Regions from separate parts of the Homo sapiens genome. Here region 1 is reported to be linked to region 2. The links are microRNA targets in miRTarBase. Many come from high-throughput screens and were not tested one by one. Region 2 holds a microRNA gene; the other region holds the end of a gene's coding sequence.
The links. The annotated mature microRNA hsa-miR-3929 reads GAGGCUGAUGUGAGUAGACCACU and lies in region 2 at 1,814-1,836, opposite strand. An mRNA with a match to its seed (bases 2 to 7 or 8) in the 3' UTR can be bound and repressed. Matches are read on the target gene's strand: a 7mer-m8 pairs with bases 2 to 8, a 7mer-A1 pairs with bases 2 to 7 and ends in A, and an 8mer does both.

Region 1: miRTarBase lists MTPAP as a target of hsa-miR-3929. Seed matches in the 3' UTR shown: 7mer-m8 at 3,422-3,428, 7mer-m8 at 1,617-1,623 and 7mer-m8 at 1,438-1,444.

Annotation. Positions count from the first base shown.
Region 1 is chr10:30,309,045-30,314,110 of GRCh38, forward strand. It overlaps MTPAP (mitochondrial poly(A) polymerase), which reads right to left. Exons shown (of 9, transcript NM_018109.4): 9 at 757-4,927. The coding sequence ends at 4,565. Among named protein-coding and RNA genes, the nearest start is that of MTPAP, 38 kb to the right of the region's middle.
Region 2 is chr18:35,932,275-35,937,347 of GRCh38, forward strand. MIR3929 (microRNA 3929) reads right to left here and starts at 1,868; the gene lies at 1,814-1,868.

The DNA.
Region 1 (5,066 bases), not on the chromosome of region 2:
ATCCCAGCATTTTGAGGGGCTGAGGCAGGCAGATCACCTGAGGTCAGGAGTTTGAGACCAGCCTGGCCTGCATGGCAAAACCCCATCTCCACTAAAAATACAAAAATTAGCTGGGTGAGGTGGTGTGTGCCTGTAATCCCAGCTATTCAGGAGGCTGAGGCCTGAGAATTGCTTGAACCCAGGAGGTAGAGGTTGCAGTGAGCTGAGATCGCACCACTGCACTCCAGCCTGGGCAACAGAGCTAGACTCTGCCTCAAAAACAACAACAACAAATCATCAATGATTTACCAATGAAGATATACTCAACCTCCTTAACTTGAAATTGGCAGTTCTTCCCCATCTTGCTCAACCTTAACTTCTGCGTATCACATTAAAAACTACATCCTAGCCAATCTGGACCCCTAGTTCTCCAAACATATGACAGCTACTCACCAACTGAATGTCAAACTCTGCAAAGTGGAGTTGCTACTTCAACAAGATGCATCTGCTTGGAAGCTCCTTCTGGCTTTGCTGCACATATTCAGTGTTTGCTTATTTACACAGGCAAATGTAGCATTTCCCTACCACGGCACCAGGAGGCTCTAAAGGGATGAATATGGCTGTACTTGGAAGGCCAAGGAAATCCTAGGAGCATGGAATGAGGTGGAACAATCTAATTCTGCTCTCACCTGACTACAGCGTAAGCCACCTGAGTAGAGCTCTACACCTGACTACAGCAAAAGAAAGACGCCAATAGGAAATGACAGCAGAAAAAAGTCTTATTTCAACTCAACTTTATTTTCCCTTCTCCTTTATGGTAACTGAAGGTGAATGAGATAATTACACACAGTTTTCCTATAACGTTTCAGGCTAATCGTTATTTCCTAGAAAGTCTCTGGCTAATTCTCAAATTTTCTAAAGATGGATAATAGCTCCAGGAATTATACTAGTGGGCTATAGCTGAAATCGTTTTGATCTGGGTAGTCTCCTATCAAAATTACTTTCACATACTTAGTAAAACTCATTACAGGTGAAAGCTACTGAATGAAAGCCTAGTAATAGTTATAGAAGAAAAAAACTTGAAAAAAGTTTTACTTAACATTGCAATTATTTTTAATTAAGAAACAGCAATGACAAATAATTGCTAGTTATCACTATCACGTAATAAAAATATTTTAAAAATCTGGGTTGTGATACACTAAAGTTATGAGAAAATATATTTGTCTGTAGTCTATATTCAGTTGAACAGACTTTAAAACTGTGTATTAAAAGGTCTTTGCAGCCAGGCGTGGTGGCTCATGCCTGTAATCCCAGCATTTTGGGAGGGCGAGGTGGGCAGGTCACCTGAGGTCAGGAGTTCGAGACCAGCCTGGCCAACAGAGTAAAACCCCATCTCTACTAAAAATAGAAAACTTAGCCAGGTGTGGTGGCATGCACCTGTAATCCCAGCTACTCAGGAGGCTGAGGCAGAAGAATCACCTGAACCCGGGAAGTGGAGGTTTCAGTGAGCCAAGATCACTGCACTCTCCAGCCTGGGTGACAGAGGGAGACCCATCTCAAAAAAAAAAAAAAAAAAGGGTCTTTGTAGGCCAGGTGCGGTGGCTCACACCTGTAACCTGTAATCCCAGCACTTTGAGAGGCTGAGACAGGTAGATCACTTGAGGTCAGGAATTCAAGACCAGCCTGGCCAACATGGTGAAACCCCGTCTCTACTAACATACAAAAATTAGCTAGGCATGGTGGCAGGCGCCTGTAATCCCAGTTACTTGGGAGGCTGGGGCAGGAGTATCGCTTGAACCCAGGAGGCAGAGGTTGCAGTGAGCCGAGATCGCACCACTGCAGTCTAGCCTGGGTGACAGAGCAAGATTTGCTCTCAAAAAAAAAAACAAAAAACAAGTCTTTGTAGATTTAAAATTAATCACATAATTAAATCTGATTCTGAAAAGTAAAACAGCCTAGTGTCAAGGCTGTCCTACAAATTACCAAAAAGAAAAGAAAATGCTAACCCATACACATACTTTATGTGCTTAAATAACCATATTACACCTAGCACCAACCTAAAAAAGAAAATATCTGACTAAATATCTGTGAACAGAAAAAAAAATTTCATTTAGAAACCCTTAAGTGGTTTATGCTTTTTAAGCTTTTTAAATCAATATGGATTTCTAGCCCAACAAAATAAAGAACAAATGAAAAATGGCTTTTAAAGACATCGCCTGTACAGAACACTGATATTTGTTGGTGTCAAATGTGCAATCCAATAGCACAGACACAAGGACACAGAATTCATTTGCTTCATAACAATGCTGAGTTTCTTAAAATATCCCATGCAGAACCCATTATAATTTCTGACATAAAATTTAAATGGGAAAAATTTTTAAAGTACTACAAACTCTAAATCTGAATTTTGAGTAGCAAAAAAGGTAATTACATACCACAAACACCGAAAGGCAACAGTTAAAGAGAAGTAACATTTACTTCGCGCCAGGAAAATGCACTGACCTAGCATTTTCCTACATCCCTCGCTTAATCCTCACATTGATCTGATCATGATCCCCATTTTACAGATCAAACAGGGGCCCCAAGAGACTGAGTAACTTGTCATTGAGCCAGTCTCGCTCAAGTCTGTTTTTAAACACTATACTACTTGCTTCTTTTCCTTTGAGAGAGTCTCACTGTCGCCCAGGATGGAGTACAGTGCTGTGATCTCAGCTCACTGCAGCCTCTGCCTCCCAGGTTCAAGCAGTCCTTGTGCCTCGGCCTCCCAAGTACCTGGGACTACAGGCATGTGCCGCTATGCCCAGGCCTTACTTGCTTCTTAAATAGAAAGTTACTCCACAGAAGCCAGGTGCAGTGGCTCACGCCTGTAATTCCAACACTTTGGAAGGCCAAGGTGGGCGATCACCTGAGGTCAGGAGTTCGAGATCAGCCTGGCCAACATGGTGAAACCCTGTCCCTACTAAAACTACAAAAATTAGCTGGGCTTGGTGGTGGGCGCCTGTAATCCCAGCTGAGGCAGGAGAATCACTTGAATCCGGGAGGCGGAGGTTGCAGTGAGCTGAGATTGTGCCATTGCACCCCAGCCTGGGCAACAAGAGCAAAACTCCGTCTCAGAAACAAAACGAAACAAAGCAAAAAAGTTGCTCCACAGAGAATGTAATGGAAATTAAATTTCAATATACAGTTGCCCATTGAACAACATGGGTTTCAACTGCGAAGTCCATTTACACACAGATTTTTTCCAACCAAACTTGGATTGAAAATACAGTATTCTCGGCCAGGCATGGTGGCTCACGCTTGTAATCCCAGCACTTTGGGAGGTTGAGGTGGGCTGATCACGAGGTCGGGAGATCGAGACCATGGTGAAACCCTGTCTCTACTAAAAATACAAAAAAATTGTCCGGGCGTGGTGGCGGGCACCTATAGTCCCAGCTACTCAGAGAGGCTGAGGCAGGAGAATGGCGTGAACCTGGGAGGCAGAGCTTGCAGTGAGCCGAGATTGCGCCACTGCACTCTAGCCTGGGCGACAGAGCGAGACTCTGTCTCAAAAAAAAAAAAAAAAAAAAAAGAAAGAAAGAAAATACAGTACTTTCACAGGATGCAAAATCTGCTTATGTGCAAGGTGGAATTCTCCCATGCACGGGCTCCACAGGACTGAAGGAGTTCAGTGTGTGCAGATCTGGGTGTACGTGGATGGTCCTGGAACCAATTTTCTGCATATACTGAGAGACAAATATGTCTCTTTCCTGCAGGAAGAGGGGAGTTCTCAAAAGAGATGTGAAGGAATACTGGGAATATCACATTTTAGTTAGAAACAGAATTTTATTTTTGAAAATAGAAAAATCAAACAATATTTTTAAAATGCAATCTATTGATGTCATCATATTTGGTTTGGAATACCTAAGAATGCAGTGACTGAAATGTCTGTTCTAAAAACATAAACATTTTTTGATATCAGTACCAACCCACTTTAATTTATATGTGAATAAGAGAACTTCGCTTGAAAAATACAAATATACATATTCGAGAGCACTACCAAATTTTGAAGCTTAATGTATTCATTGCCAACGTACTGTACATAACTAAAAGTCATTTTAAATGTTTTCTAAACAGGGACTGATGTGGATATCAACAATGGTTTCATCCTAAAACTGAGTTTTAGCATTTGTTTAGTATATTTACCTATTTAGTTAAAGCACATTACAATAATCTTTCACCCATTCCTTGTGGCTTATGTTTATTTTCATTTTTTTTAGAGATGGAATCTTGCTATGTTGTCCACGATGGATTCAAAATCCTGGGCTCAAGAGATCCTCCTGCCTCAGCCTCCTGAGCAGCTGGGACTACAGGTGTGCACCGCCACACTCCACAGCTGATGTTTTAATAAAGTGCCACTGAGTATCAGACTGATCAAACTGAAAACATCCCAGAACTTCAGACCAGGTTAAGGGGGCCAATGAGAAGATCATGAAAAGTGACATCAGATGAAAGCTGAGATCTGTGAAAGTTTCAAATCAGTTTTTCCAAGTAAGTCCACAGACCATTTGATAGGCTAAGCCCAGTTCTTTACACAATGTAGCAGCCATCATGTCTGAGTACTAATTGTTCTCTTCCCACTGGTTTTTGTGAAATTTTCTGTTCTGTTACCTTTTAAAGATTCTAGCAAGTTTTTGACTGTTTCAATTGCAAACTTATTGCTTTTCTTCTTGGTAAAGGACTTTCTGTTTGGAGCAGATGGTAGCAATAGGGATACCAGCCCCCAGGGCCGATTACTTGATATGGAAGGTCGATCTGTATCTTCCTGTTGTAAAATCCAGGCACTTTCTCGGGCCAAATCTACAAATTTTTGCAGCTGGCTTTGACTTACATTTTTGCTTATGTTGAGAGAAGTTTCAAATGGATTCTGAATGTACAGAGGAGAAGAATCAGGTTTGTTTTGCTCCCTTCCCTATAGATTATTACACAGAAGAAAAAATGAGTAAGTACATGAAGGGCTTAAATATAAAAACAGTTAACTCAATAAAATGTCAAAACACATAAAACACCAGCATTAACTTTACATAGCAAAGAATTTCTTTCTCAGGGGA
Region 2 (5,073 bases):
TGGATAAAATGGAATAATCCTTTGAAAAATAAAAATAACACACAATGAAAAAATGTTACTAGCCTTATACTTAGTAAAGAAATTGAACGTATTATCAAAAATCTTCACACAAAGAAAATTCTAGACTCAGATAGTTTCTTTGTTGATTCTGTCAAACATTTGAGAAAGAAATGACATCAAATATAGACAAACTCTTTCTAAAACACAAGAGAAGAGAACACTGTCTGAATCACTTTTATGAGGCCTATATAAATTTGATACCAAAAAACTAGCAAATATATTACAATAAAAGAAAACTACAGAATATCCCTCATGAACCTAAACAAACTACTAGCAAATCAAATACAAAAATACATGCAAAAGTTCATATTCCATGAAGAAGTAGGTGTATCACAAGAGTGCAATGTTGATTTAACATATTAAATTGTCAATGTAATCCACCATATTAACAAAACGAAAGAGAAGACAAATATGTAATCATTTCATAAGCAGAAACATTATTTCCCTAAGTTCAACTGCCATTTATGATAATGGTGAAATATTGTCCTCTTTTATTATCAAGAACAAGCTAAAAATGTTTACTGTCACCACTTCTGTTCAACATTGTACTGGAGGTCCTAGGCAGTAAAATAAAACAAAATGAAATAATAGGCATAAAGATTGAAAATTAAGAAGTAAAACTCCCTTTGTGTATAAATGACATCATTGTTTGCAAAGAGAATCCTGAGGAATTTATGTAAAAATAGCAAGGTCACAGAATACAAGATCAATCTGAAAAAATCAATTATATTTCGATTTACTACCAGCAAAAAAAAAGTTTAAAAACCAATTTTATTTATAATGATATCTAGAACATTAAATACTTAGAAATAAGGTTAACAAAAGGTATTTAATAACTCTATGCAGAAAACTATGAATTTAGAAGACCTAAATACATGGAGAGGCATTTCATGTTCATAAGTTGAAAAACCCAATGCTTTTATAATATACAGTCTCCTCAGATTGATCTATAGATTCAATGCAATCTGACTGATAATTAGGTCAAGTTTTCAGAGAAACTGACATATTGATTCTGACATTTATATGGAAATACTAAGGTCCTAGGATCTCTAAATTAATACTGACAAGACAGAATATGAGGACTTCCACAACCTGAGTTTGAGGCTCCAGTAGCCAAGCTAATGTACACAAAGCAAGTTTATGCAAATACATGAATAAAACACAACAGGCAGCCTAGACCTAGACTCACACCTATAAGGTTACTTAATGACTGACAAAGCCACCGAAGCTCCAATGGGAAAAGTAAGCGCTTTTCTAGAAATGATGCTGGAAAAATAGATATCCATATGGGGAAGAAAATGAATCTCAATTCCTATCTCAACTCATGCACAAAATTAATTCAATATGGATGATAGACCTAAACATAATACAGCTAAAATTATAGTAGTCCCCCTTTAACCACAGTTTTGCTTTCCATGGTTTCAGTTACCCTCAGCCAACCAAAGGGACATGTGGCTCATCATCCACTCACATCCAAAAAACTAAAAGAGAAATTTTAGAAATAAATAATTCATCCCTTTTTAAAAAAATTTTTTTGAGACAGAATCTCACTCTGTCACCCAGGCTGGAGTGCAATGGCGCAGTCTTGGCTCACTGCAGCCTTGGTCTCTCAGGCTCAAGCAATCCTCCAACCTCAGCCCCCTGAGTATCTGGGACTATAGACATGCACCACCACGCCTGGTTAATTTTTGTATTTTTTGTAAAGATAGGAGTTCGCCATGTTGCCCAGGCTGGTCTTGAACTCCCGGGCTCAAGTGGTCTACTCACATCAGCCTCCCAAAGTGCTGGGATTACTGGTGTGAGCCACTGCACCTGGCCAACTCATACGTTTTAAATTGTGTGCTGTTCTGAGTAGCATGATGAAATCTCAGGCCATCTGTCCCGTCCCTCCTAGGATGTGAATCATCCCTTTGTCTCGTGGATCTACACTGTAGATGCTACCTGCCTATGGGTCATTTAGTAGCCATCTGGGTTATCAGATCAACTGCCGTGACATCACAGTGCTGATGTTCAAGTAACCCTTATTTTAGTTCGTAATGGCCCCAGTGTGCAAGAATAGTGGTGCTGGCATATCATTATAATTGTCTGTTTTATTATAATTTGCTGTAATCTCTTCCTGTGCCTAATTTATAAATTAAACTTTATAATAATATAATATTATATATAATATAATATAATTTATAAATTAAACTTTATAATAATACATATAGGAAAACAACACAGTATATATACAGTTCTTTAGTATCCATGGTTTCAGGTATCCACTGGGGGGTCTTGGAATATGTCCCCAGCAGATAAGCAGGGTATACTATATAGAACTGTCAGGAGAAAAATATTTGAAACCTGAGAATAGGCAAAGATTTCATAGGTCACAATTATAATGATATGCCAGCATCACTTGTCCATGACAAGGTGCTTTACAGAGGCCATTGTCTCCTTTTAGCTAGGCAGTGAAAAGCACATTACAAGTAAAGAAAACAGCAGTTTTCTTAGACTGTTTACTTTGCAATAAAGGAATACCTGAAACTGGGTAATTTATAAAGAACAGGGGTTTATTTGGCTCATGCTTCTGCAGCCTATACAGGAAGCATAGGGCCTCAGAAGCTTCCAATCATGGCAGCAGGTGAAGGGGAGCCAGTATATCACGTAGTGAGAGAGGGAGCAAGAGAGAGAAGGAAGTCTCAGGCTCTTTTAAATAACCAGATCTTGGGCGAATTGGTAGAGCAAGAACTCCCTCATTACTGCAAGGATGGCACCAGGCCACTCAAGAGGGATCCACCCCTGTGATGCAAACACCTCCCACTAGGCCCACCTCCAACATTGGGGTTGCCATTCCAACGTGAGATTTGTAGGGCACAAGTATCCAAACTATATCAATGTCCTCTGAGTGTGTGTGTGTGCACGCGTGAACTCATGGGGTTTCTTATTCTCATAAATTCTGGCAGTCCTCTATTAATTACTTACTTCAGACACAAATTATAACCAGATATGGGACAATATAGTTACTAGGGAAAAAAGTTTACTTTCTAAAAAGAATTGGCATATTCTTTGGTTAATTAAGAGGAGAAAGTATCCAGAACCCTTTTCCAGTTCTCTTTGCAGAAGCGTATAATTGCTTTAAGGGTCTTTCTGGCGAAAAGTGATTAGAGGATACATTCCGCCAAGCACCAGGCTGCTCCCTCGGCATGTCCCCCACTTCTGCTGATGCACTAACGTGTCTCAAATCAGTTGCCAATTGGCAGGTGAATCCTATAAAACTGCAAACCTCTGGTGGAGAAACATTATATAAAAGGAATGTAATTGCAGGAAGCTTTCCACCTGCCCCATTCTAGAGGCATCGCAAAGCAGATTTTGTCTAAAGGCTTACCAGAAAGTGAGAGGGCTCCAAAAGGACTTAGAAGGCCCATCAAGCACAACCTGGCATTGTTCATCCCTAATAATTATATGTGCAGAGTTTTATAGTAGCTCTTCTCCTAGTGGTTCTTTTCATCAGCCTTGTCAATGGAGTGAGAATAAACCTCCCTTCCTGTCTGCCACCCCACCCCACCCCCACTGTGAAGCACCTGGGTTTTGTGTGGGGTTGACTCCCCCGTGCATCCCAGCATCAGCCCGGGCCTGACCAGTCTAGCCCAATCAGGGCATCCCCCACTCCCCTTGCTGTGGTATTTTGTTCAGGGATGAACTCCTGCAGAGAGAGTATGTCTTCATCAGAGACAACTGGCAGGCCTGCCCTGCCGAGGAAAGCCAGCCTGAAGACAAAGCCCACACAGGGCAAGAGAAACTAAGAGAAGTTAAGACAGAACCAGAACCCTGATCAAACCACACCTGGAGCCCACCAAGCATTTGTGTCGCAAAAACTTAGTGAATCCCATCTAATGTTCAAACCTGTGCATTGGATTAGGTTTTTAGTACCCTGCACCCAAAACCTCCTCACTAAAATACTACATATCCTCTGAAATATTAAACAAAAGAGAATGGAAACTACCAACTACTCATGTAATGAGTTTTAGAAATCCTGGCCTTGAAAGATGTTGTGTTCAGGAACGACTATATAACCAACATAGGTTGTATATTTTCATGGGGCAATGACACCTCTAATAATTCACGCATCATTTTCTACTCACGCACTGCTTACTTCTATAAGGATTTCACATGGCTTACAACAAAATACCTATATATTAGGATAATAAAATAAGAGTTAATTATCCAGGGGAAAAGATGGATATATCAGAAAACATCAGTGAAGTATAACTCTTAGGTTGGAACATACAATTTAGCTCCGAGCATTCTGTCAGCCAAGGTTAAAATTATTACAGGTTGAGTATCCCTACTCTGGAAAGCTGAAATCTGAAATGCTCTAAAATCCAAAACTTTTTAAGTACCAACATGATGCTCAAAAGAGACGCTCATTGGAGCATTTCCAATTTTAGATTTTTTGACTTAGGGATGCTGAACAACTAAATGTAATGCAAATATTCCAAAATCTGAAAAATATTGAAATCTGCAACACTTCTGGTTTCAAGCATTTCAGATAAGGGATACTCAACTCAACCTGTATCTTACTATCTGAAAAAGAAAAATATCTATGTTTGCTGGGAGGTATGACGCTTTTTCCTAGCAGTAGTAAGTAAGCTCTAGAGCAGCTGTAGTCAGTTTGGGAAGTTTAGGCCCTTGAATGCTGACATTAGCTGAACCACTTTAGCTTATCTGTATTTAGAGCATCACCAAAAGTGTTGACATTAATCTATGTACTGGCAGTGTTAGAATGTTATCAGATTCTGGCAGAGAAATGTTTACATCAGCACTTGCAAGAAAGTAGGGCGGGGTGCAGTGAGTTTTTCAAGGAAGTACAATGTGATCCCAGCCCCACAGGGTTGTTGTCAGCAGCAGCAGGAGGGCACACTGAGGGCTTGAACTCTGCAGCCCCTCTGTACCCTGAGGACAAACAGGGTAGGGAGGTGGAGAAGCAGAGAGATGAAAAAGGAGGAGGGAAACCATGTGGGGGAGTCCTCA